Linked DNA regions of Homo sapiens. The protein of the gene in region 1 purifies or fractionates together with the protein of each later gene. This does not show direct contact. Each region holds a gene or a part of one and is shown in the gene's direction. Other genes may lie near its edges. The genes, in order: DHCR24, BRI3BP, VPS8, SLC2A1, ATP13A3, SLC30A7 and FUNDC1.

Region 1 (3,500 bases):
TTGGGGCCCCCAAATTACTAAACTAAGGGAAAAGTCAAGCTGGGAACTGCTCAGGACAAACCTGCTTCCGCATTCTATTCAAAGTCATCCCTCTGCTCACTGAGATAGATGCATATTCTGATTAGCTCCTTTGGAAAGGCTTATCAGAAACTGAAAAGAATGCAGCCATTTGTCTCTTATCTACCTGTGACCGCAAGCCCTCTCCCTGCTTCAAGTTGTCCCCGCCTTCCTGGACAGAACCACTATACTTCTTACATATATTGATTGATGTGTTCTGTCTCCCTAAAATGTGTAAGATCAAGCTGTGCACCAGCCTCCTTGGGCACATGTTGTCAGGACGTACTGAGGCTGTATCAGAGGCGCACATCCTCAATCTTGGCAAAATAAACTTTCTGGATTAACTGAGACCTGTCTCTGATATTTGCGGTTCACAGTACCAATACAGTATGTGTGGGGAAAAAAAAACCAAAGTAAATACACTGTGTTATTAACATTAGTAATTCTGAAGAACTAGGAAGGGTGAATTTTTTTTTTGTTTGTTTGAGACGGAGTCTCACTCTGTTGCCTAGGCTGGAGTGCAGTGGCACGATCTCGGCTCACTGCAACCTCCACCTCCCAGGTTCAAGTGATTCTCCTGCCTCAGCCTCCCAAGCAGCTGGGACTACAGGTGCCCGCCACCACGCCTGGCTAATTTTTGTATTTTTAGTAGAAACAGGGTTTCACCAAGTTGGCCAGGCTGGTCTCAAACTCCTGAACTCAGATGATTCACCTGCCTTGGCCTCCCAAAGTGCTGGGATTACAGACATGAGTCACCACGACCAGCCAGGATGGGTGATTTTTGTTTTCTTCTTCACTTTTGCTGTATCTTCTAAGTGAATGAGTATTTCTCCTGTAATTTAGAAAAGGTTAAGTCAAATATTTAGTATAAAGATACTTGAAGGGCGAGGTTGAACACTAGCTAACCGAGAGCCAGAAATCACATTCCCTGTAATTAAAGGCAATGTTCTAGAAAGAGCCTGTAAAGGCTATATAGGAATCCCTGCAGTGAGTGTTTGGGAAGGTTTGAGATGACACCTTCTGTGTGCAGCAGCTCCCCTTGGGCCTGGCAGCCTCCTTTTGACCCAGGGTCTCTTTTCTTGTGTCAACAGATTGTCCGTGTGGAGCCCTTGGTGACCATGGGCCAGGTGACTGCCCTGCTGACCTCCATTGGCTGGACTCTCCCCGTGTTGCCTGAGCTTGATGACCTCACAGTGGGTGAGGACCCTATATTAACGGGCAAGAAGAGACACACGGTCCTAGGACCGGAGCTGATGGGCCTTGGCCACCCTCCATCTAGTCCTGGAATTGCCGCTATTCCATCTGTGACAGAAGTCATTCAGTCTCTTACTTGCCTGCTCCAATGACAGGGTGTTCACTGCCTGCTGTTCCATTTCTGAGCAGCTCAAGTTATCAGAAGGCACTTTTAATTTCTGGTTTGAATCTGCTTCCCTGTGACTTGTTCCCATTGCTCCAATTCCCCCCCATGGAACACACAGAATAAGTATAGTCTCTCTTCTCCTCCCATAGGATTCATAGCCCCCAAAGCCTCTTCTTCTTCAGGGAAAACACCTTCAGTTCTTTTAACTATTCCCATGGGACAGGGCTTCCTGTCACCCCTTCAACCCCCCTTTTCATTAAAGTCCCTCTCAAGATGAATGCACACAGATTTCTAGGTTGAGTCTGGCCAGAGGTGAGGTGTGAGTACACTTGACAAGGTCTGCTCGCCACTCCCTTCCTCTAAGGACACCCTCATGCTCCCATCTGAGCCCCTCCTTCCCTCTCCTGCTCTCTAGATTGACAGGTGGGAAATCTCCCCTAAGTCAACAGCCCCATTTCTGCTAGCCTGCCAAACCTCCCTCATGCTAGGAGGCCCCCCAGCTCCAACCCACCCCCAACCCTGTACCCACAGCTCTCCCTGCTGACACTGTGTGTGATGTCTCTGCAGGGGGCTTGATCATGGGCACAGGCATCGAGTCATCATCCCACAAGTACGGCCTGTTCCAACACATCTGCACTGCTTACGAGCTGGTCCTGGCTGATGGCAGCTTTGTGCGATGCACTCCGGTGAGTTCAGCAATGGGAGATGTCCATGCCAGCCTGCTCTGGGCATTAAGGATCCTGAGGTCAGGGAGGTGGCTCCTCTAGGTGTGCTTCATTCCCAGTACCTGTTCAGTCTGGGTCTATATCTGTAAACAAAAATTTGTGTAGCCCCTTATATGAGCTTAGGCAATGTTGTAAATCCATTATATATATTAAGGCATGCATGTTATCCTTCAACAACCTAATGAGGGAGGTTTATTATCCCTATTTTATAGATTATTATTAAATAATAGAAGGATTATTATCCCTATTTTATAGATAGGAAACTAAAGCTCAGAGAGATTATTTGCCATAGGTCACACAGCTGGGACTCACACCCCAGTAATCAGGCTCCCAGGTCCCTTAGCCGTTCATTATGCCATCCTGCCTCTCTGGAGAGGAAGTCAGGCCTTGGCATCAAAGCTGTGTGTCTTAACACTGTGAGGTACAGTCATGTGTCACAGAACAGTAGGGATATGTTATAAGAAACAAGTTGTAGGCAATTTTGTCATTGTGCAAACATCATAAGAGTGTAATTACATAAACCTAGATGAGATAGCCTACTTCACACGTAGGCTATTTGGATAGCCTACTACTCCTTGACTACAGACCTATACAGCATGGTACTGTGCTCAATACTGTAGGCAGCTGTAACACAATGGTATTTATGTATCTAAACATACCTATACTTGGAAAAGGTACAGTAAAAATACAGTATAAAAGATGAATGGTACACCTATGTAGCGTACTTACCATGCATGGAGCTTGCAGGACTGGAAGTTGCTCTGGGTGAGTCAGTGAGTGAGTGGTGAGTGAATGTGAAGTCCTGGGACATTACTGTACACCACTGTAGACTTTATAAACACTGTACACTTAGGCTACACTAAATTTATTTTTTGAAATTTTCTTTCTTCAATAATAAATACTGTTAGCTTACTATAACATTTTTACTTTATAAACTTTTTAAAAACTTTTGACTCTTGTAATAACACTTAGCTTAAAATGCAAACACATTGTACAGGTGTACAGAAATAGTTTCCTTCTTTATATCCTTATTCTATAAGCTTGTTTCTATTTAAACTTTTTTTTTAACTTGTTAAAGTTTTTTTGTTAAAAACTTAGACACAAGGCTGGGTGCAGTGGCTCACTCCTGTAATACCAGCACTTTGGGAGGCCAAGGCAGGTGGACTGCTTGAGCTTAGCAGTTTGAGACCAGCCTGGGCAACATGGCCTACAACATGGTCTACAAACAATACAAAAATTAGCTGGGCATGGTGATGTGTTCCTGTATTTCCAGCTACTGTGGAGGCTGCAGCAGGAGGATCACTTGAGCCTGGGAGGCAGAGATTGCAGTGAGCCGTGATTACGCCACTGCACTCTAG
Region 2 (3,500 bases), on another chromosome or scaffold:
TATACCACGTTTAGGTACTAAAACAGCTTTGCTTATGTTGGCCAGGGGAAAACATGGCATTCTGTGCGCAAAGCTAATGATCGCCAGCCCTGCCTTGGCCCCTCCCTTGTTTATGGTCATTGTAAGATGCCCGCATGTTAAGGCTTAAGCTGTCACTGGGCTGGGTGTAATACCCGCTTCATTCCTCCTCCCACCCTCTTACCCGAAACATGAAGGGCACTGTGCTCTATTGAGATCTCGATAAGATCATCATTTTAACTTGTATTCAACTGAGGGAGGTAACATGATATCTGGGTGCTGGTGGATTGAGACCTCAAGCATCAATTCAAAATTGCTGTCGAAAATATGCACTATTTTTTTTTTCCACTCTGGCTAAGTGTAGGCTCTGAAGCCAGTTTTATAGCTTGATACATTCTGGTGAAAGATGTCTTCATTTTTAATGAAAGAACCTACAGTTAGTAGGTGTCACCTCAGGGTAGAAATTCTGATAGAAATTCTGATTATTTGAAACTCTGATAGAAATCCTAGATGCTAGATTTGAAGAAAACCTGGGTTTTATTGCATAGATTTCACCTTTTCTGGGGCACATCTTACCCCAAAATAATTGGGGATTTTTTTGTTCCTTCTCCATTCCATGGAACCTTGTAGGGTGTTGGGATTGGGCCTCCCCTCGCCACCCGCCACATGTCTTTGTTTTTTTCTCTCTTTTGTATGTGGAAAAATGTATTTTTGTACCATATCTCATACCTGGAGAGAAACCTTTTTTCTATCTTCAGGGCTGTAGAATATATTAGCGTAACACTTCACTGAATGTGACGTAAAAGCATTCTGATGAAAACTGGTTCTGTTATAATTAAGACTCAGTGTTTAAAATATCTTAATCAGTGTTAATTTCCCAGTGTTTCAGTATCACAGTAAATACTTGTTTTACTGAGAACAGAAAATAATCCAGAAAAGGAAAAGGACCAGCCCTCTCTAGATTGCTGGAATTGTATGGATGTGTTGGGGTTGGTTTAGTGATCTCTTCCTTGACACCCTAGCAAAGATGCTTTTGTGGAGTGCAAACCTTTCATAAATATACTTTCCAGGCTGGGTGCAGTGGCTCAAGCTTGTAATCCCAGCACTTTGGGAGGCCAAGGCGGGTGGATCACTTGCGGTCGGGAGTTCGAGACCAGCCTGGCCAACATAGTGAAATCCCGTCTCTACCAAAAAATACAAAAAAAAAAAAAAAAAAAAAAATAGCCAGGTGTGGTGGTGGGTTCCTGTAGTCCCAGCTACTCAGGAGGCTGAGGTGGGAGAATTGTATGAACCTGGGAGGCAGAGGTTGCAGTGAACTGAGATCACACCACTGTACTCCAGTTGAGGCGACAGAGTGAGACCCAGTCTCAAAAAAAAAAAAAAGTGTGTGTGTGTGTATATATATGTATATATATATACACACACACACACTTTCCAATACCAGTCGGCATTACCCGCCCTTTGGTTTCTTTTGCTTTGGATTTCAGCCCCCATATCATTTCTGGTAACAGAGCACAGCAATAGAATTTCTGGGAAGCAGACCTTGTGAATCGTGCCTGTGTCTTAATTCACAAAGGGTAAGTGAATGCCGTTGAAAGGTGTTTCATACACTTACCCCAGAAATGAGAGCCTGTCTCATGCAGGAGTCGGGAGGCAGCGATGTCAGGGAACTGGGACTATGTCTTTATGACTGTGATGGTGGTAACCAAGTGGGGTGGTCCCCTCTGGGGAGCTGAGTAAGAACGCAAAGGTTTGGGTCAGTGATTAGGAAGACTATAATATGACTTTGTGCATGCCCGGGAGGGCTGCCTTGTAGAGAGGATGTGAGCAGCTTAGTCGCTCATCTGGCCCTGTGATTCAGGCTTATGGAGCGTTAAGAATAACAGCTGTCAAATGGCCTAGACATGGTTAATGCAATTTGTTGCTAGTGGAAATCCTGAATTGCTTCCTTTCTGTGATCACTGCTACTTCTTAAGATGCTTTTGATGAATGTCATCTGCCTTACAAGTTGACACCTGATAACTTCTCCCTGATGGGTTTCCGAACTGGCTGACTTAACCAAAAAGCCAGCTCTTGCCATCTATCTTGCATTAAAAGGAATTCCTGAGGCTCCTAAGGGGTCAGCTGCCCCACTCCTGACTTTTTTATTTTTAATGGTCTATACCTTCTGCAACATTTTTGTTTATGGCCATTTGAATAGTTGGACTTTGACTCCTCACTTGTGAATAATAGGAATATATTTTGCAGAATCTAACATAATACCCTTAAAATTCATACTGGACAACCATCAGTGTGATGTATAGTATCTGGTGTAAACAAATTTTATTCAGCATATTAAATTATTCTGTGTTTTGCTTTTCCTTGATATGTAGGAGGTGCACCAGTACCAGTTTTTCTCTTGTGGTGGCTTAAAACGCTGATTGCCATTTGCATTGTCTACTGAAAAGCTGTGGCAGCGAGTGGTATTATTGACCATGTGTTCTCATGTCTTTTTGCAGATTTAAAGGTTTTATTGTAGTGTCCATTTAATATCTGCATGTGTGTTTAATCTCTGAATACCATGTAATTAAACTGATTAACTTGTGATGGTGATGGTGATTAGCACACACTAAAAACCCAATGAAGCAATTGTCTCCCTCTTCTTAACTGGAAATCACACTTGTGAGGTATGGTATCCATTATCAACAGTGGATTCATGATTGACTTCATATTTTGTGTATCTGGTTATAAATTTTGTATAGCATTTAATTTGGCACTTAATATAAATCCATTTGATTTGAATAGTGTGTGTGTGTACATGGTGTGTGTGTGTGTGTGCACTTTAGTTTCGTGAGCCTTGGGAAACTGATTCTACAAATATCTTATATAGAGATAAATGTATCAGGCATTTTTTTGCAAAGCGATATATACATTCCTCTTATTTATTAAATCACTGGCTTTGGTGTTATGTAGAGATATTTGTAGATCTCAGAACAGAATTAAAATATTGTGAAAATTACAGCTTAATAAATGTTTATTGTAATTTTGTTGTATGGACTTTTAAAATATATCTCATCACTTCTAACCAAACATTTGTGGAGTTTCCCCAGTTTTGATGTGTAACCAGGATTCTATGGTTCTATTCCTCGATCTGAGAAGAGTCATAAAACCTTGAATTTATGTATTCAGTTGGAGGTAAGGTTGCAAGATAAAATACAGGATGCCCAGTTAAATTTGAATTTCAGATAAACAACCAGTAGTGTTTTAGTATAGTGTAGAAGTGTTGGTTGCTTATCTGAAATTCAAATGTAAGCAAGTTTCCTGTATTTTTAGTTGCCAAATCTGACAGTCCTAGCACAGTGATGCGTGCCTCTCCACCCCACCCCGCATACCCATGCTGCTTTCTCAGGTCCTAACAATCCTTTTCTTTCTATTTTTTTTTTTTTTTTTTTTTTTTTTTTGAGATGGACTCTCACCCAGGCTGGAGTGCAGTGGCGAGATCT
Region 3 (3,500 bases), on another chromosome or scaffold:
GACTGTTTTTGGCAGAAAAATAAATGAATCTGACTTGTATAATAAAAAGACCATGCTGCTGTCCTGTGGAGCTTGGATTGTTGGGGGTTAAGGAGGTAGGAGGTAGGAGGCTATGAAAGTAGTCCAGGTAGAGATAGTAGTGCCTTGGATCATTGCTAAATTGATTCTGAATTTTCAAATTGCATTTTCAGGAGAGTGATGGGAGTGAGAACCTGTGAATCTAGATGTCTGTTCAGTGGTTCCAAGGGTGAAGTCTGCTGTATTGAGCCTCTGCATTCTAAGCCTGAGTTGAAAGATCATCCCATCACACAGTTTTCATTATTGGCCATGGCATCCTTGACAAAAGTAAGTGTATTTAGAAGTTAAAACTCAGAACTTTTAGAAGCTTTGAATACCAAATATTTGAAAATTCCAAGGTCAATATTGAAAACATATTTTTCTCTTACAGATACTGGTCATTGGATTGAAACCATCCTTGAAAGTATGGATGACTTTTCCCTATGGCCGGGTGAGTACGTCCCTCCATCTTATTTGCCAAAGGAAGGACCATGTCAGGAGGTTGAGAGAGATGGCTTGCAAGGGGTGAATTCTATGAGATTGTCAGAAAACTAGACAGGATGAAAGTCAGTGCTCCAGAGATCGTTGGCTGGACTTGCCTTAAGGTGATCAAAGCATCATAAAGCTGATGACCAGCACAGTGTCCTAGGGATCATGAGTCTTGTACTTTTCCACTTTATCACTTTAAGCTTTTCTCTCATAGACAGCATACAGTTGGCTTTTGTTCTTAACCTTAACTTGACAGTCCCTGTATATTGCTGTCCTGGTACTCTGTGGTCACACCTAACTTCATGCATGGCATTTCCTAGCTTCATTCGTTGCCCTTCTGAGTGCAGTAAAATTCCCTTATCAGATTTAAAGTTGAAGGATAAGTTGATTTATTGAGTCCAAGCCCTGATTTTCAGTGTTTGAAAGATACTTGTTTTTACATGGCTGCTGTGCTGAGACAGGCTTATACTCACTGCCTGCAGCTTTGGCACTGAACTATGGATAGAGTAGACCCCACTGTAATATGCGCCATAGATTGCTATTACATGTGCTTTCCCTGGCTTCTGCCTCTGATAATTTACTTTGGAGGATGATACTTCCTAGCATGTGTTATTTATATCCCAGTTTTCCCTTTTTTTTCTTCTTGATTGTTTTCAGAGTTGTAATCTTCCAATGTATATATGAGGAGAGGTGTTGATAGGATGGGATGGAGAATGGTGGTACAGAACTCTGGCTGGTGCAGAAAGCGTTCCCTATGGTGAAGGAACTCACTTTTGTTTTCTTGTTGGTACCCTGTGTGTCTCTGGGCCCTAGGGGAAGCAGGTCTATCCTTTCAGATGGCAAAACTGGCTTAGATGGCCATTAACATTTGTTAGATTAGCTTCATTGGCGAATTGAGATTTTTTTCATGGTGTTATGTGTTTGCTTCTTTTTGTATGTTTTTATTGTTTTTTTTCAACATTTTATTATAAACATTTTCAAACAAAATTGAATTTTACATTGAATACTTGTATAGCTACCATTTAAATTCTATAATTAACATTTACTGCCCTTTATTACATATCTGTCCATCTACCCATCCCTCTGTCCACTTATCAAATTATATTTTTTATGTATTTCAAAGGAAATTTCAGAAACCAGTATTCTTTCCCCTAAATATTTAGCATGCATATTATTAGCTAGAGTTTAATACTTCTTTAGGTTTTTCCTTTGGTGTAGAATATACATACAAAGAAATGCACAGATCTTGAGTGTACATTTGCTGAACTTTGACAAATGCTTAACACTTTTGTAACTCAAATGCCTATCAAGATGTAGAACATTACCATCAACCCAGAAAGTTCCCTCATGATACCTCCCAGTTAGTTCTTGCTTTACTGAGAAATTGGGGAAAGTTTTTATCAAGGAACACTAGTCAGATGCTGTTTTTAACCATAGTTTTCTCTTTGTCCCCTTGTTTATTAACTGTGATGATTTTTTTTTTCCATCTCCCTACTTAGATGGATCCTTCCAGTGTGCCACTGCTGGCCTGGCACTTTGTAGCAGTACAAAATTACGTGAATCCCATGCTTGCCTTCTGCAGAGGAGATGTTGTTCATTTTCTATTGGTAAGTCCTAATATGACCATTAGAAAGCCTCTTACAATTTTTTTTATTCATCAGCAATTAATAATGTGTCAGAGAAATTTGTGTTACTATCCTAAGTCTTTGGAGAGAGAGTGACCTATTTAATTTTTATCTAAGGCTTTAATGATTAGCATCGGAAAATGGTGATCACTCTCAGCTACATAACTTCTCATGGTTTATTTCTCAGCTTCATTTCTTTGACTGACAAATAATTAATGGTATATGTAAATGTATAAAGATATGAATGTGAATATGTGTTAATGTATGTGCAACTACATATGTGTGTATTAATGACAGCAAGTATCATTGAGCACCTATTATGTCCTCTACACTGTGATGGGCACAAGCAGCAAAGGAAAGAAGGAAGTATACAACATAATTTCATCTTCCACACAGCTTATAATCTTGTTTGAAAAGCAAAATCAGTGTGTTCATTATTACTACAGAAAATGGTTTAAGGATTGAACTATGTGATGAAAATCAAGCTGATGTAAATTCAGAGTACAAAGTGATTAGTATGGACTAGAGAGAGTATTAATGGCTTTATGAAGGATATACTGCAACTACTGCAGGAAGGGTAGGTATGCATACTGGGGGAAGTGAGATGAACTGAAGTCACAGAGGCAAGAATGTGCCTTTGTATTAATAATCTCTTGCGTTTCCTAGCTCAGTGAAGCAAGTTCACCACTGTCCACCTAGTTTCTCCAGCCAGAAACTTACGAGTTACTTTTCAGTTACCTTTCTCTCTTCATATGTGCTCTATCACCAAGTCCTATTGACTCTACCTCCAAAAATCTCTTGAATTTCTCCTTTTTTGTCTCCCCCATTGCTGTTTCCTTAGTCTAAATCATGTACATGTCTAGCCTGGATTCTGCCATAGCTTCCTAGCTAGTCTCTGGCCTCAGTGCCTTTTACATATACTGTTGCCTCTGCCAGGAAAGTTCTGTGCTATCTTCTGTTGTCTCTGAGCTCATGATTAACATGACCTTCCCTGGCCTCTGAACTAAGTTAGTTACATGCATCTTTTGATAACATTCAGCACTTAAAAAAAAACAAAAGAGGGACGAGGTCTTGCGGGTCTCCAACCAAGGCCCAGGCTGACTCTCGAACTCCTGGCCTCAAGCGTTCCTCCCACCTCAGCCTCCCAAATATTGGGATTACAAGTGTGAGCCATTGTGCTTGGCCACATTCAGCACTTTTAAAATTACTTGTCTAATATTTTTCTTCCCCACTAGACAGAAAGCTCCATAACTCTAGAGACCATCTTTACTGTTATATTTCCAGCCACTAGGACAGTGCTTGTATATTGTAAATATTCAGTAAATGTTT
Region 4 (3,016 bases), about 12 Mb from region 1:
TCCCCTGAGGATCCATCACAACCCAGTCTAACTTTTCCCCCTCTCCGTCATCCTCAACAGGAGCAGCTACCCTGGATGTCCTATCTGAGCATCGTGGCCATCTTTGGCTTTGTGGCCTTCTTTGAAGTGGGTCCTGGCCCCATCCCATGGTTCATCGTGGCTGAACTCTTCAGCCAGGGTCCACGTCCAGCTGCCATTGCCGTTGCAGGCTTCTCCAACTGGACCTCAAATTTCATTGTGGGCATGTGCTTCCAGTATGTGGAGGTGAGAACCCCCACTGTCTCTATACTCACCCGCACGCATGACCCCACAGTGCTGTGCAAAGTGCTGGCCCAGCATTCTCATTAGGAATCATGCTGAGGAGGAAACTGAGGGTAGGAAGCCCAGGTCACATGACCAAGAATGCTGACCTCAACTCCAGGGTTCTCCCCTTAGCCTTGAATGGTGCTCCTGGAGCCTGTTACATTCTAGGTACAAGCGTGGTCTCAGTTAATTATGATAGCATCCCTGGGTAGGTGGATGTTCCCTTTTCAGCTCAAAGGCCCAAAGGTAAAGTGACTTATCCAAAGTCCTACAGCCAGGATGTAGGGTCATGACTCCAACCAAGTGTGTCTGTGTGTCTTTCAGCAACTGTGTGGTCCCTACGTCTTCATCATCTTCACTGTGCTCCTGGTTCTGTTCTTCATCTTCACCTACTTCAAAGTTCCTGAGACTAAAGGCCGGACCTTCGATGAGATCGCTTCCGGCTTCCGGCAGGGGGGAGCCAGCCAAAGTGACAAGACACCCGAGGAGCTGTTCCATCCCCTGGGGGCTGATTCCCAAGTGTGAGTCGCCCCAGATCACCAGCCCGGCCTGCTCCCAGCAGCCCTAAGGATCTCTCAGGAGCACAGGCAGCTGGATGAGACTTCCAAACCTGACAGATGTCAGCCGAGCCGGGCCTGGGGCTCCTTTCTCCAGCCAGCAATGATGTCCAGAAGAATATTCAGGACTTAACGGCTCCAGGATTTTAACAAAAGCAAGACTGTTGCTCAAATCTATTCAGACAAGCAACAGGTTTTATAATTTTTTTATTACTGATTTTGTTATTTTTATATCAGCCTGAGTCTCCTGTGCCCACATCCCAGGCTTCACCCTGAATGGTTCCATGCCTGAGGGTGGAGACTAAGCCCTGTCGAGACACTTGCCTTCTTCACCCAGCTAATCTGTAGGGCTGGACCTATGTCCTAAGGACACACTAATCGAACTATGAACTACAAAGCTTCTATCCCAGGAGGTGGCTATGGCCACCCGTTCTGCTGGCCTGGATCTCCCCACTCTAGGGGTCAGGCTCCATTAGGATTTGCCCCTTCCCATCTCTTCCTACCCAACCACTCAAATTAATCTTTCTTTACCTGAGACCAGTTGGGAGCACTGGAGTGCAGGGAGGAGAGGGGAAGGGCCAGTCTGGGCTGCCGGGTTCTAGTCTCCTTTGCACTGAGGGCCACACTATTACCATGAGAAGAGGGCCTGTGGGAGCCTGCAAACTCACTGCTCAAGAAGACATGGAGACTCCTGCCCTGTTGTGTATAGATGCAAGATATTTATATATATTTTTGGTTGTCAATATTAAATACAGACACTAAGTTATAGTATATCTGGACAAGCCAACTTGTAAATACACCACCTCACTCCTGTTACTTACCTAAACAGATATAAATGGCTGGTTTTTAGAAACATGGTTTTGAAATGCTTGTGGATTGAGGGTAGGAGGTTTGGATGGGAGTGAGACAGAAGTAAGTGGGGTTGCAACCACTGCAACGGCTTAGACTTCGACTCAGGATCCAGTCCCTTACACGTACCTCTCATCAGTGTCCTCTTGCTCAAAAATCTGTTTGATCCCTGTTACCCAGAGAATATATACATTCTTTATCTTGACATTCAAGGCATTTCTATCACATATTTGATAGTTGGTGTTCAAAAAAACACTAGTTTTGTGCCAGCCGTGATGCTCAGGCTTGAAATGCATTATTTTGAATGTGAAGTAAATACTGTACCTTTATTGGACAGGCTCAAAGAGGTTATGTGCCTGAAGTCGCACAGTGAATAAGCTAAAACACCTGCTTTTAACAATGGTACCATACAACCACTACTCCATTAACTCCACCCACCTCCTGCACCCCTCCCCACACACACAAAATGAACCACGTTCTTTGTATGGGCCCAATGAGCTGTCAAGCTGCCCTGTGTTCATTTCATTTGGAATTGCCCCCTCTGGTTCCTCTGTATACTACTGCTTCATCTCTAAAGACAGCTCATCCTCCTCCTTCACCCCTGAATTTCCAGAGCACTTCATCTGCTCCTTCATCACAAGTCCAGTTTTCTGCCACTAGTCTGAATTTCATGAGAAGATGCCGATTTGGTTCCTGTGGGTCCTCAGCACTATTCAGTACAGTGCTTGATGCACAGCAGGCACTCAGAAAATACTGGAGGAAATAAAACACCAAAGATATTTGTCTCTAGAGGCTCAGCTGACAAAATCTGGGAGAAGTTTGCTTTTGTAACTACAGGCAGGCTTTTTTCTCCCTGACATGAAGAGGGGTTGTAAGAAGGGTGTGAGAAAGGAAAACTGGTACTTAGCAAATGGAAATACCTATATGTATTACCATTAGGTATAAAGAATCTATGAGGACATCCATCTGCATCTCAACAAAGAAGAGCAGGTTGCGAAGAATATGCCCTGCCTGAGCCTGGGGACAGGGCGGTTAACTGGTGAAGGGCTGAGGCCAGATGAAAGGAAGCCTTATCGTGTGCTCCCAAAAGACTTCTGTTGAAAGGAGTTATCCGGGTCCCCGTGCGGGAGGGGGTGCGGGGGCAGGGCAAGAAGGAGAGGCCGGGGGCCCAGGTATCTTACTCCTACGACGCTGCTCACTCAGGGCTGTCCCCACTGGACCAGAAAGGAAACAGACGGGGTGGGGTGGGGTGGGGTGGGGTGGGGATGGGTGGGAGCCCCGCGCCGGTGGCCGGACGCGAGGACTAC
Region 5 (3,500 bases), on another chromosome or scaffold:
CATTGAGAAAAAAATTTCTATGATATAATTCAGGTAGGTTGAGGTGTTTTTTGTTTGTTTTCTTTTTTTGTTTGTTTCTTTTGAGATAGGATCTCTCTTTGTTGCTTAGGCTAGAGTGCAGTGGAACAAACACTTCTCACTGCAGACTTGACCACCTGGGCCTTAAATGATCCTCACTCCTCAAGCCTTCCAAGTAGTGGGACTGCAGGCACATGTCATCATGCCCAGCTAATTGTTTTTTCATTTTTTGTAGAGACGGGGTCTCACTATGCTGCCCAGGCTGGCCTCAAACTCCTAGGTTCAAGCAATCCTCCTATTTCAGCCTCCCAAAGTGGTGGGATTACAGGCATGAGCTACAATGCCTGACCTGAGATTTCTTAAGAACGTAACTATCACTGAACAGACTTCATCTCTTTTATAGTGCTAAAGCACGTACTATTTTTGTGTGCATCTCTTTGGTTGCATGTCTGTTTCCCCACCCAAGTGTCTTGAGAGCAGAGATCATCCCTTTTTGTCTTTAACCTCCCAGTGACTAGCATAGTGCCTGCTGCATTCTTGATACTCAGTTATTTAAAGAATAGCATCTTGATAACTATATTAGTAATATTTTCAAAGACCCATCTCTGGGTCCCAAGTAGATCTCATTGTTGGATTGCTAATGGTTCTTGTGTCACATTTTCAGGATCAGTAATTGTTTTATAGAATTGATCTGAGACTTGATAATGAATCCACGAAAACTGTATTGAATGTGCTTGTGGCACAGTTTTTTCTTTTTCACTTAACATTTAAATTAGGATATGTTGTAGAGGGCAGTAAAGAATAGATTTATGCTTATTTTTGGATACTACACAAAATGAATATTCCTTAGTATTAGAATTGTTTAGTGTACAGTGACATACATTTCCAAATGATTATTATATTGAGATACTGAACTCTTGAACACACACGTGGTTTATTCAGCATATAAAATGTTTTCATTTATAGATATTTTAAACTGCATTATAACTTATAGACATTTTTAATTGTTTAGATATTTCAAGTTTGTGTACATAAGTTGCTTACTCAATTGACTAAACCATTATGTGTTAAAACTTCTTTTTCTGCAGAGATGCAATTGAGAACAACATGGATTTTATGGGATTAATTATAATGCAGAACAAATTAAAGCAAGAAACCCCTGCAGTACTTGAAGATTTGCATAAAGCCAACATTCGCACCGTCATGGTCACAGGTTAGACTTTATAAAAGAACACAGAAGCAAATGGAGTGTGACAGAGCTGAAGTTATATTATATTGAGGGATAATCAGTTATAAAATCATATTATATAGTCTATAGTGGTTTCAACCTAAGTTCTCTTTTAGCTCTGAATATTTTCCCAAGCGCAAGATAACTTTGTCATATTCTTTTTGAGGTCTAGCGAATCCTATTTATAGAAAGTGTAGTAGAATAGTAAAAGTACGGCCGGGCGCGGTGGCTCACGCCTGTAATCCCAGCACTTTGGGAGGCCGAGGCGGGTGGATCATGAGGTCAGGAGATTGAGACCATCCTGGCTAACAAGGTGAAACCCCGTCTCTACTAAAAATACAAAAAATTAGCCGGGAGCGGTGGCGGGTGCCTGTAGTCCCAGCTACTCGGGAGGCTGAGGCAGGAGAATGGCGTGAACCCGGGAAGCGGAGCTTGCAGTGAGCCGAGATTGCGCCACTGCAGTCCGCAGTCCGGCCTGGGCGACAGAGCGAGACTCCGTCTCAAAAAAAAAAAAAAAAAAAAAAGAATAGTAAAAGTACACTGTAAAAATTTAAACTTGACTCCTTTTTGTTTTCTCTCTTTATTCGTATATTTCTTATAGCACTTATTGTACCTTGTGTTATTTGTAGATTTGTTTTCTGTACTAGAATATAAGATTCTTGAGGGTTAGGAGTATATTTTACTCATGTTGGGGTCCTTTGCAACTTTTAGAACTGTCAGCTACATAGAAAATGATTAATAGATATTCGATAGCATGAAATGTTTATATGTAAGATATTGTTTATTACCCTAGCTTGAATTCTAGTGAAATAGCCTACTTTTTTTTTTCTAGTACATCTAAGGGATTCTCCTGATGTTACTATACTGTTGATAATATTAGATAACTCTTACTCATTAGCTGTGTGAAATTGTGGTAGCTCTGTTTTTTGTTTTTTTTTCTTAGCAGATAATCAGATTTAAGATACTTAATGGCACTTACGTGTTCAGTAAGACTAATATGGAGAAAGTCTGTATACATTTTTGTGTTTTAGACTCTTGAGATCTATCTAATAACATAATTTTACCGTATAACTCAAGGTAACTAAGTCTGTTAGCATTCCAGCCATTCTTAGTTCTTGCGTCTTCTTTGTCAAGACACTTTTCACCTGTTCCTCGTCCTCCTCTTTTATTTATTTATTTATTTTCCCCTTGCCAGAATATGGCTTTGTGTACCAAAGGTCATAGGAAGATATTCTTGGAAATAGTGTGTGGAAATTGAGGAAAGAAATATCTCGCTCTTCTGTTTTGGTAGCAGTGGGATCCACAAACCTTTGTCTGCTTCTCCTTAATAAGATCCTGTTCTTGCTGCTCTTCTTTCTTCTCATGACTGAGAAGTTGTCTCTCTTGTTTCTCGTTTACACCTGTTCTTATTACCTGTCTTACCTTTTTGTTTTGTATGATCTTGCTTTTGTAATTCATCATTTTCTATGATATGGTGCTGGTGTTCTTGCACAGACCACTAGTCACTTTGTAAAGTTATTTCGGTAAGTATTTATTGAGCCACCTGATCTGTGTGTAGCACCGTGCCAGGTATTGTGTAGATACAAATAGTGCATGACTGGAAAAGATTGAGAATTATATTTGGCTTTAAAAATTGTGGGTGAGATGTTTTCTTTAGCATATAACGTGCTTGCGTTATTTGAGGCTTCTTTTGATAAGTATGCTCCAATTTTGTTATTTTTAAACTGTAAGTGGAAGAACCATACATTATCGTTACTCTGCCAGCCCAGTCATGGAGACTGTAGTAGATTCTCAGCAAGTACATGTTTGATACGTTCACGTTTCCATTTTAATTTCAATACATTTAAAATATTTTGAAAATTAGGTGACAGTATGTTGACTGCTGTCTCTGTGGCCAGAGATTGTGGAATGATTCTACCTCAGGATAAAGTGATTATTGCTGAAGCATTACCTCCAAAGGATGGGAAAGTTGCCAAAATAAATTGGCATTATGCAGACTCCCTCACGCAGTGCAGTCATCCATCAGCAATTGACCCAGAGGTAAGGTCAAGATCGACTGTCCGTTTTAAAGTTTGTTGATTTAAATTTAGTCTGAAAAAATAAAAAAAGTGGTGCATTAAAACACAGTAAAGCAAAAACTAAATGAAAACAGAAGTCAGGGCTATTTTTTCAGAGATTATGTTTCATTAGGACTGGGACAGACCCAGGAATCTCAATGTTCAAATTTTGATATTTAGCTAAGATGAGAAGCATA
Region 6 (3,500 bases), about 46 Mb from region 1:
CATTTTTAGGTATGCTGTGGAGAAAGGATTCTGCATTCTTTTGCATTTAGCTTTTTCTACCTGCTTTAATGTAATTTTACTGATTCTGTTACCAAATGCAGCAGCTTTCTTGTGTCTGCCTTAATGTGAGCATTTGCATATGTCTTGTTAATCTTTGTTAGTGTGTGTAATAGTACTTTGAAAAATTTTGGGCATGAATTTTGTCTTTGTTGTTTACTGCCTCATCTCCCGTGCCTAGAATGATTCCTATAATAGAAAATGTTACCAATAAATATTTCTCAAATGAATGAATATCATTATCTGACCTCTTTGGAGATATCTGTATACTTCCAGTCAGTACTTATTTTCATTTCCAGTAAGGTCTATCACTTTCCTCTATGCTTTCATTACCTTCTGGTACTCCATAGCAGAAACTCAGGATTGTTTTAACAAATGTGTAACACTTTTTACAAGTAAATGTTTATTGAATTGATCTGAGTTTAGAGCTGATTCTTTGCGCTAGTGTCAGTATAATTGTAACCATTTATATAATATATTTTTACATACCTTCTGTCCTAACACTTTGTTTTCTAGGCCACGGACACAGTCATTCCCTCTTTAATGGTGCTCTAGATCAGGCACATGGCCATGTCGATCATTGCCATAGCCATGAAGTGAAACATGGTGCTGCACATAGCCATGATCATGCTCATGGACATGGACACTTTCATTCTCATGGTGAGTACAGCCTAGAGACAAATGGACAGCCTCCAAATAAACAAGAGTTTTGTGGATTACTTTTCCTAGTTGAAATAGTTTATTAAAAAGATACCAAATCAACTTCTTTTCTAATGAATCAGTCTAAATGGTTCCCAGGGCTAGTTTATTTTTTGTATAGCATGAAATTAACTCAGTATAAGGCAGTGGATGTTCGCTTTTTTCCAGAGGGTATATCATAATAAAATGCCACTTTTTTATGTATTTATTTTTAATTTTTAATTTTTGTGGGTACATAGTAGGTGTATATATTTATGGGTTACATGAGACATTTTGGTATAGGCATGTAATACATAGTAATCACGTAAGGGTAAATGGGGTTTCCATTCCCTCAAGCATTTATCCTGTGTTATAAACAATCCAATTATACTCTTGGTTATTTTAAAATGTACAATGAAATTACAAATTGACAATAGTCACTCTGTTGTGCTAGCAAATACTAGGTCTTATTCATTCAACTATTTTTTTGTACTCATTAACCGTCCCCCTTTCCCTCCCCTCAAATGCCACTATTTTAAATGAGTACTAGTGAATGAGGAACAATTGCATTTTAGGAAATGAAAATCATAATTTTTTAAGCATCACGAGGCCTTTTGTGCTATATTGGCTTATAAAAATATGGTGGAGGTTTTCAATTTTTCACATTTGTATTATAATTTTTGATGTCTGTCACCTGATGTTTACCTCTATGTTTTTTTTAGAAATCTTTGGATGCTAACTTATGTAGCATTGGGTACTAAGTTATGAGGTGTTTATCAACTTAATATTTTATTTTGAATTATATTTTACATAGTTTATAAAGTATAGCTTAATAGAAGCTGCTTGGGTGACACAATTTGATTACTCTCAGTAGAGTGTATGCTTAAGTATTATCTTGTATTTGCAACATAGACAGAATCCTAAAGCTTTAGAATTGAAAATATGAAAGGGACCTTGAAGAGTGAGCCTTCTAAGCCCTTCATTTTTCAGTCTTTGAAATTTTTCCATGAGGCAAGAAAATAGCTTGAACCCAGGAGGCGGAGGTTGCAGTTAGCTGAGATCACGCTACTGCACTCCAGCCTGGACAATAGAGCTAGACTCTGTCTAAAAAAAAAAAAATTTCTAACTACTCTATTGAGATATGATTGACATATGAAAACAGATAAATATTTAATGTATACAACTTGATGAGTTTGAGGTAAGTATGCACCCATGAAACCATCACTATGATTTCTCCAATAAACATATCCGTTCCCACTGAAAGTTTCCTCCTACTCTCAATTCTTTCTTTTCTTTTTTCTTTTCTTTTCTTCTTTCTTTCCCTCCCTCCCTTCCTCACTTCTTTTCTTTTTTCTTTTCTTTTCTTTCTTTTCTTTCTTTCTTTCTTTCTTTCTTTCTTTCTTTCTTTCTTTCTTTCTTTCTTTCTTTCTTCCTTTCTTTCTTTCTTTCTACTTTTGCAGTAAGAGCACTTAACATAAGATCTACACTCTTGGCAGATTTTTAAGTATACAATACAGTATTAGCTATGGGCACTATGCCATACAAATCCCTAGGACCTATTTATTTTGCACAACTGAAACTTTGTACCCTTTGACTAATATTTCCCCTTTTCCAACTTCCTCCAACCACTGGCAACCACTATTCTATTCTCTGTTGCTATGAGTTTGACTATTTTAGATTCCTTATATAAGTGATATAAATGTAGTATTTGTCCTTCTGTGTCTGGCTTATTTCACTTAGCATAATGTCCTTCAGGATCATTCATGTGTCAAAATTAGAAGGATTTCTTTCTTTCTTTAAGGCTGAATGATATTCCGTTGTATGTATATACCACATTGCTTTATCCATTCATCTGTTGATGGACATTTAGCTTGCTTCCATGTCTTGGCTATTGTGAATAATGCTGTAGTGAATACGGAAGTGCAGATATCTCTTTGAGCTCTTGATTTCAATTCTCATGGATATATACCCAGTTTGCTGATCATACGGTAGTTCCATTATTGTTTTTTTGAGGACCCTCCATACTGTTTTCCATAGTGTCTGCACCAGTTTACATTGCCACCAGTAGTATACAAGGGTTTCCTTTTCTCTACAGCTTTCCCAACACTTACTGTCTTTTGCTTTTTTGGTAATAGACATCCTAACAGGTATGATATGATATCTTATTGTGATTCTGATTTGCATTTCCCTGATGATTAGTGATGTTGAGCATCTTTTAATGTACCTGTTGGCTATTTGTATGTCTTCTTTGGAGAAATGTCTATTTTATTCCTTCGGCCATTTATTACTTTTTTATTTTTTTAATAAATTTTTTTATTTTTAATTTTTGTGGGTACATAGTAGCTGTATATTCTTATTATTTATTTATTTATTTATTTTTGAGATGGAGTCTCGCTCTGTCACCCAGGCTGGAGTTCAGTGGTGCGATATCGGCTCACTGCAACCTCTGCCTCCCGGGTTCAAGTGAATCTCCTGCCTCAGCCTCCCGAGTAGCTGGATTACAGGCGTGTGCCACCACACCCAGCTAACTTTTTGTATTTTTAGTAGAGACGAGGTTTCACCGTGTTAGCCAGGATGGTCTCAATCTCCTGACATCGTGATCCACCTGCCTTGGCCTCCCGAACTGCTGAGATTACAGGTGTGAGCCACTGTGCCCAACCAGTAGGTGTATATTGTTATGGGGTACATGAGATGTTTTGATACAGGCATGCAGTGTGAAATAATCACATCATGGAGATGAGGTATCCTTCTCCTCAGGCATTTAT
Region 7 (3,500 bases), on another chromosome or scaffold:
CATATTTAGGCCAGGCATGGTGGCTCACGCCTGTAATCCCAGCACTTTGGGAGGCCGAGGCGGGCGGATCGCCTGAGGTCAGAAGTTCGAGACAAGCCTGGCCAACAAGGTGAAACCCCATCTCTACTAAAAGTACAAAATTAGCCGGGCATGGTGGTGCATGCCTGTAATCCCAGCTACTCGGGAGGCTGAGGCAGGAGGATCATTTGAACCTGGGAGGCAGAGGTTGCAGTGAGCCGAGATCATGTCATTGCACGCCAGCCTGGGTGACAAAAGCGAAACTCCGTCTCAAAAAAAAAAAATATATATATATATACACACACACACACATATATATATTTAAGCCTCTTGATTGTCAAGTAGCCTTCCAGAAAGTATTCCTACTATCCCCATATGAGAGGATCCACCAGCTTTTCCCCCTTTTCATACTGTACTCTTGGGGTTCCTTTTTTTTTTTTTTTTTTCTGAGACAGAGTTTCACTCTGTTGCCCAGGCTGGAGTGCAAGTGGTGTGATCTTGGCTTATGGCAGCCTCAGTCTCCCAGGTTCAAGTGTTTCTCGTGCCTTAGCCTCCCGAGTAGCTGCAATTACAGGCGCACACCACTGTCTGGCTAATTTTTGTATTTTCCGTAGAGATGGGGTTTCACCATGTTGGCCAGGCTGGTCTTGAACTCTTGGCCTCAAGTGATCCGCCTTCCTCAGCCTCCCAAAGTGCTGGGATTACAGGCATGAGCCACCGTGCCGGGCCTCATACTGTACTCTTTGGAAGGGAGTCACTGTGTATAGCCCACATTTCAGGAGTGTAATTATGCTCCACCTTTCTGAAGGCAGAGTAGCTACATAAATTATTTAGAAATAGTCTGTTGGAAGGTTTGTCTCTTATTTATTCAGTCATTTATTTATATCAATATGGACTCATGGATATTTATTTTATACTTTGGTTTATAATCTAATGCTCTTTTATTGCTCAAATTTTACCAGCTTTGGCCATTAAGAGCTCTTTCAGTTGTGCATTGTCTTTTTTAAGCTCTCTGAGGACATAAATGATCAAGCTTCTGTGTGTGTGTGTGTGTGTGTGTGTGTGTGTGTGTGTGTTTTAAGCTTCTTCCTACCAAGTCCCTGTTTGTCTAAGGTGTTTTGTTCCCCCTCCCCAACCTTTTTCCTGCTTGTTTATTTTGGTTTCTAGTTTTCAAGTTAAAGGCCTTCCTCCAAGTCTGATGATCCTTGGTTGTCTGCTCATATTTAAGAATTGAGCACTAAAAGTTGATGGAAAGCTCTAAACAATATGGACATGTGGATTGGGCTTTCCCTTCTCTGGGAAATCTGACCAGTCCAAGAAAAATGATCTAAAGATAAGGAGTTGGGGGTGGGCAGAATTTCCCGCAGTGAAACAGCCCAATTAGATCAGCATATGGTGAAGTTCACAAGCAAAAAGCCCCATCTACCTGTTTAGAGCTTTCTGGCCAACATGAATCTTCATCTGAAAGCCGTGTGTGTGTGTGTGTGTGTGTGTGTGTGTGTGTGTGTGTGTGTGTGTGTGTGTGTCTGGCCAACATGAATCTTCATCTGAAAGCCGTGTGTGTGTGTGTGTGTGTGTGTGTGTGTGTGTGTGTTTTTCTGGAAACAGTCTCACTCTCTGGCCCAGGCTGGAGTGCAGTGGCGTGACCATGGGTCACTGCAGCCTTGAACTCCTGAGGCTCAAGCGATCCTGCCACTTCAGCCTCTCAAGTAGCTGGGACTACAGGTGCATGCCACCATGTCTGGCTAATTTTTGTATTTTTTGTAGAGACAGAATTTCGCCGTATAGCCCAGGCTGGTCTCAAACTCCTGGGCTCAAGCAGTCTGCCTGCTTCACCCTCCCAAAGTGTTGGGATTATAGGCGTGAGCAACCGAGCCTGGCCTCTGGCATTATTATTTATTTATTTATTTATTTTTGAGACAGTCTCCCTCTTTCACCCAGGCTGGAATGCAGTGGCGAGATCTCAGCTCACTGCAGCCTCCGCCTCCTGGGTTCAAGAACCGCCTCCTGATTCTTGTAACTCAGCCTCCTGAGTAGCTGTGATTAGGTGTGAGCCACCACACCCAGCTAGTTTTTTGTGTTTTTAGTTTCACTGACATAGTTTCACCATGTTGACATGGCTGATCTCGAACTCCTGGCCTCAAGTGATCTGCCCACCTTGGCCTCCCAAAGTGCTAGGAGTACAGGGGTGAGCCACCACGCCCAGCCCCTCTGTCATCATTATTATTATTATTTTGAGACAGTGTCTCACTCTGTTGCCCAGGCTGGAGTGCAGTGGCGTGATATCGGCTCACTGTAGTCTCTGCCTCCTGGGTTCCAGTGATTCTTTTGCCTCAGCCTTCCAAGTAGCTGGGATTACAGGCATGCGCTACTATGCCCGGCTAATTTTTGTATTTTTAGTAGAGATAGGGTTTCACCATGTTGGCCAGGCTGGTCTTGAACTCCTGGCATTAGGTAATCCGCCTGCCTCGGCCTCCCAAAGTGCTAACATTACAGGCGTGAGCCACGGAGCCCGGCCTGGAATTATTTTATTTTATTTATTTATTTTTAACTTGGAAGCTTTTATTCTAATAAAAGTACCTTATGTAATCCCATTAAATATTTTAGTGTTATAGGAAGTCAAATGTTCAAAAAGCAGTCATCACTGCCCCATTCCCTCCCCAGTCTGTTGGCTTGCATTTCCTTGTAGTTGCAGATGAATTTTGTGTGGACAAGACTGAATTGGGTCCTGTATGTATTGGTTGGTTAAGTTGGTTGTACCTGAACCCCACTTGGGGCAGATTGCTTGTCCTTGGTCATCTCTGTACTGGAGCAGGGTGCTCAATTTAGACTGGTATTCTTCGGTTTGATCAGAAGTGTACTTCTCAGCTGGGTGCCGTGGCTCACTGTAATCCCAGCACTTTGGGAGACCAAGGCAGGAGGATGGCTTGAGGCCAAGAGTCCAAGACCAGCCTGGGCAACATAGTGAGACTTCATCTCTCTCTCTCTTTTTTAAGGCATTAATATCTTTAGCATCTCAAGGTTTTTCATTTTTCCTGCAAGGGAACAGATTCTCAAGGGAATTTGTTCAGTGATGGTAGATCACTCCAGCATCAAAGATCATTCTCTTGTTAGTAGACATGCTAGGTTGGGTCCTTTGGGATAATCTAGCTCATCCATTTTGTTGCTGAGAGTCATTATTTGAGCCAGGTTGGTTAATACAGCTTTTGAGATTTAGTCTTTATTCATTGTCTTTGTTATCATTTATTTACTATGTCTCATTCATCTGGCATTAGTTGGGACTCTAGGGATATAGAGATTCACAGCCCATATGGTCAGTGCTGAGCTAGAAGGGTGTGTTTAGTGCTGAGAGAGCAGAGGGAAGACGCTCTGTCTGCTTGGAGGTGTTAGGGAAGTCTTCTTCCAAAGAGGCGTTAGTATCTTTAGCATCTCAAGGTTTTTCATTTTCCTTGCAACTGTTTGACATTTTCCCCCAAAACGTA

What was found.
Region 2: the proteins of DHCR24 (region 1) and BRI3BP purify together in Homo sapiens (affinity purification with mass spectrometry; one large-scale study listed by BioGRID and IntAct). This does not show direct contact.
Region 3: the proteins of DHCR24 (region 1) and VPS8 purify together in Homo sapiens (co-immunoprecipitation; one large-scale study listed by IntAct). This does not show direct contact.
Region 4: the proteins of DHCR24 (region 1) and SLC2A1 purify together in Homo sapiens (affinity purification with mass spectrometry; one large-scale study listed by BioGRID and IntAct). This does not show direct contact.
Region 5: the proteins of DHCR24 (region 1) and ATP13A3 purify together in Homo sapiens (co-immunoprecipitation; 2 studies listed by BioGRID and IntAct, with this or other methods). This does not show direct contact.
Region 6: the proteins of DHCR24 (region 1) and SLC30A7 purify together in Homo sapiens (affinity purification with mass spectrometry; 2 studies listed by BioGRID and IntAct, with this or other methods). This does not show direct contact.
Region 7: the proteins of DHCR24 (region 1) and FUNDC1 purify together in Homo sapiens (affinity purification with mass spectrometry; one large-scale study listed by BioGRID and IntAct). This does not show direct contact.

The regions. Positions count from the first base shown.
Region 1 is NC_000001.11:54,873,696-54,877,195, reverse strand, and holds part of DHCR24 (delta(24)-sterol reductase precursor), read left to right. Parts: intron 1-1,148; coding exon 1,149-1,254; intron 1,255-1,984; coding exon 1,985-2,103; intron 2,104-3,500. UniProt on the Homo sapiens protein: Catalyzes the reduction of the delta-24 double bond of sterol intermediates during cholesterol biosynthesis.
Region 2 is NC_000012.12:125,028,145-125,031,644, forward strand, and holds the end of BRI3BP (BRI3-binding protein precursor), read left to right. Parts: 3' UTR 1-3,087; downstream 3,088-3,500. UniProt on the Homo sapiens protein: Involved in tumorigenesis and may function by stabilizing p53/TP53.
Region 3 is NC_000003.12:184,853,666-184,857,165, forward strand, and holds part of VPS8 (vacuolar protein sorting-associated protein 8 homolog), read left to right. Parts: intron 1-191; coding exon 192-345; intron 346-448; coding exon 449-508; intron 509-2,045; coding exon 2,046-2,153; intron 2,154-3,500. UniProt on the Homo sapiens protein: Plays a role in vesicle-mediated protein trafficking of the endocytic membrane transport pathway.
Region 4 is NC_000001.11:42,924,853-42,927,868, reverse strand, and holds the end of SLC2A1 (solute carrier family 2, facilitated glucose transporter member 1), read left to right. Parts: intron 1-60; coding exon 61-264; intron 265-627; coding exon 628-828; 3' UTR 829-2,516; downstream 2,517-3,016. UniProt on the Homo sapiens protein: Facilitative glucose transporter, which is responsible for constitutive or basal glucose uptake. Has a very broad substrate specificity; can transport a wide range of aldoses including both pentoses and hexoses.
Region 5 is NC_000003.12:194,431,503-194,435,002, reverse strand, and holds part of ATP13A3 (polyamine-transporting ATPase 13A3), read left to right. Parts: intron 1-1,106; coding exon 1,107-1,231; intron 1,232-3,110; coding exon 3,111-3,286; intron 3,287-3,500. UniProt on the Homo sapiens protein: ATP-driven pump involved in endocytosis-dependent polyamine transport. Uses ATP as an energy source to transfer polyamine precursor putrescine from the endosomal compartment to the cytosol.
Region 6 is NC_000001.11:100,913,090-100,916,589, forward strand, and holds part of SLC30A7 (zinc transporter 7), read left to right. Parts: intron 1-573; coding exon 574-717; intron 718-3,500. UniProt on the Homo sapiens protein: Zinc ion transporter mediating zinc entry from the cytosol into the lumen of organelles along the secretory pathway.
Region 7 is NC_000023.11:44,529,360-44,532,859, reverse strand, and holds part of FUNDC1 (FUN14 domain-containing protein 1), read left to right. Parts: intron 1-3,500. UniProt on the Homo sapiens protein: Integral mitochondrial outer-membrane protein that mediates the formation of mitochondria-associated endoplasmic reticulum membranes (MAMs).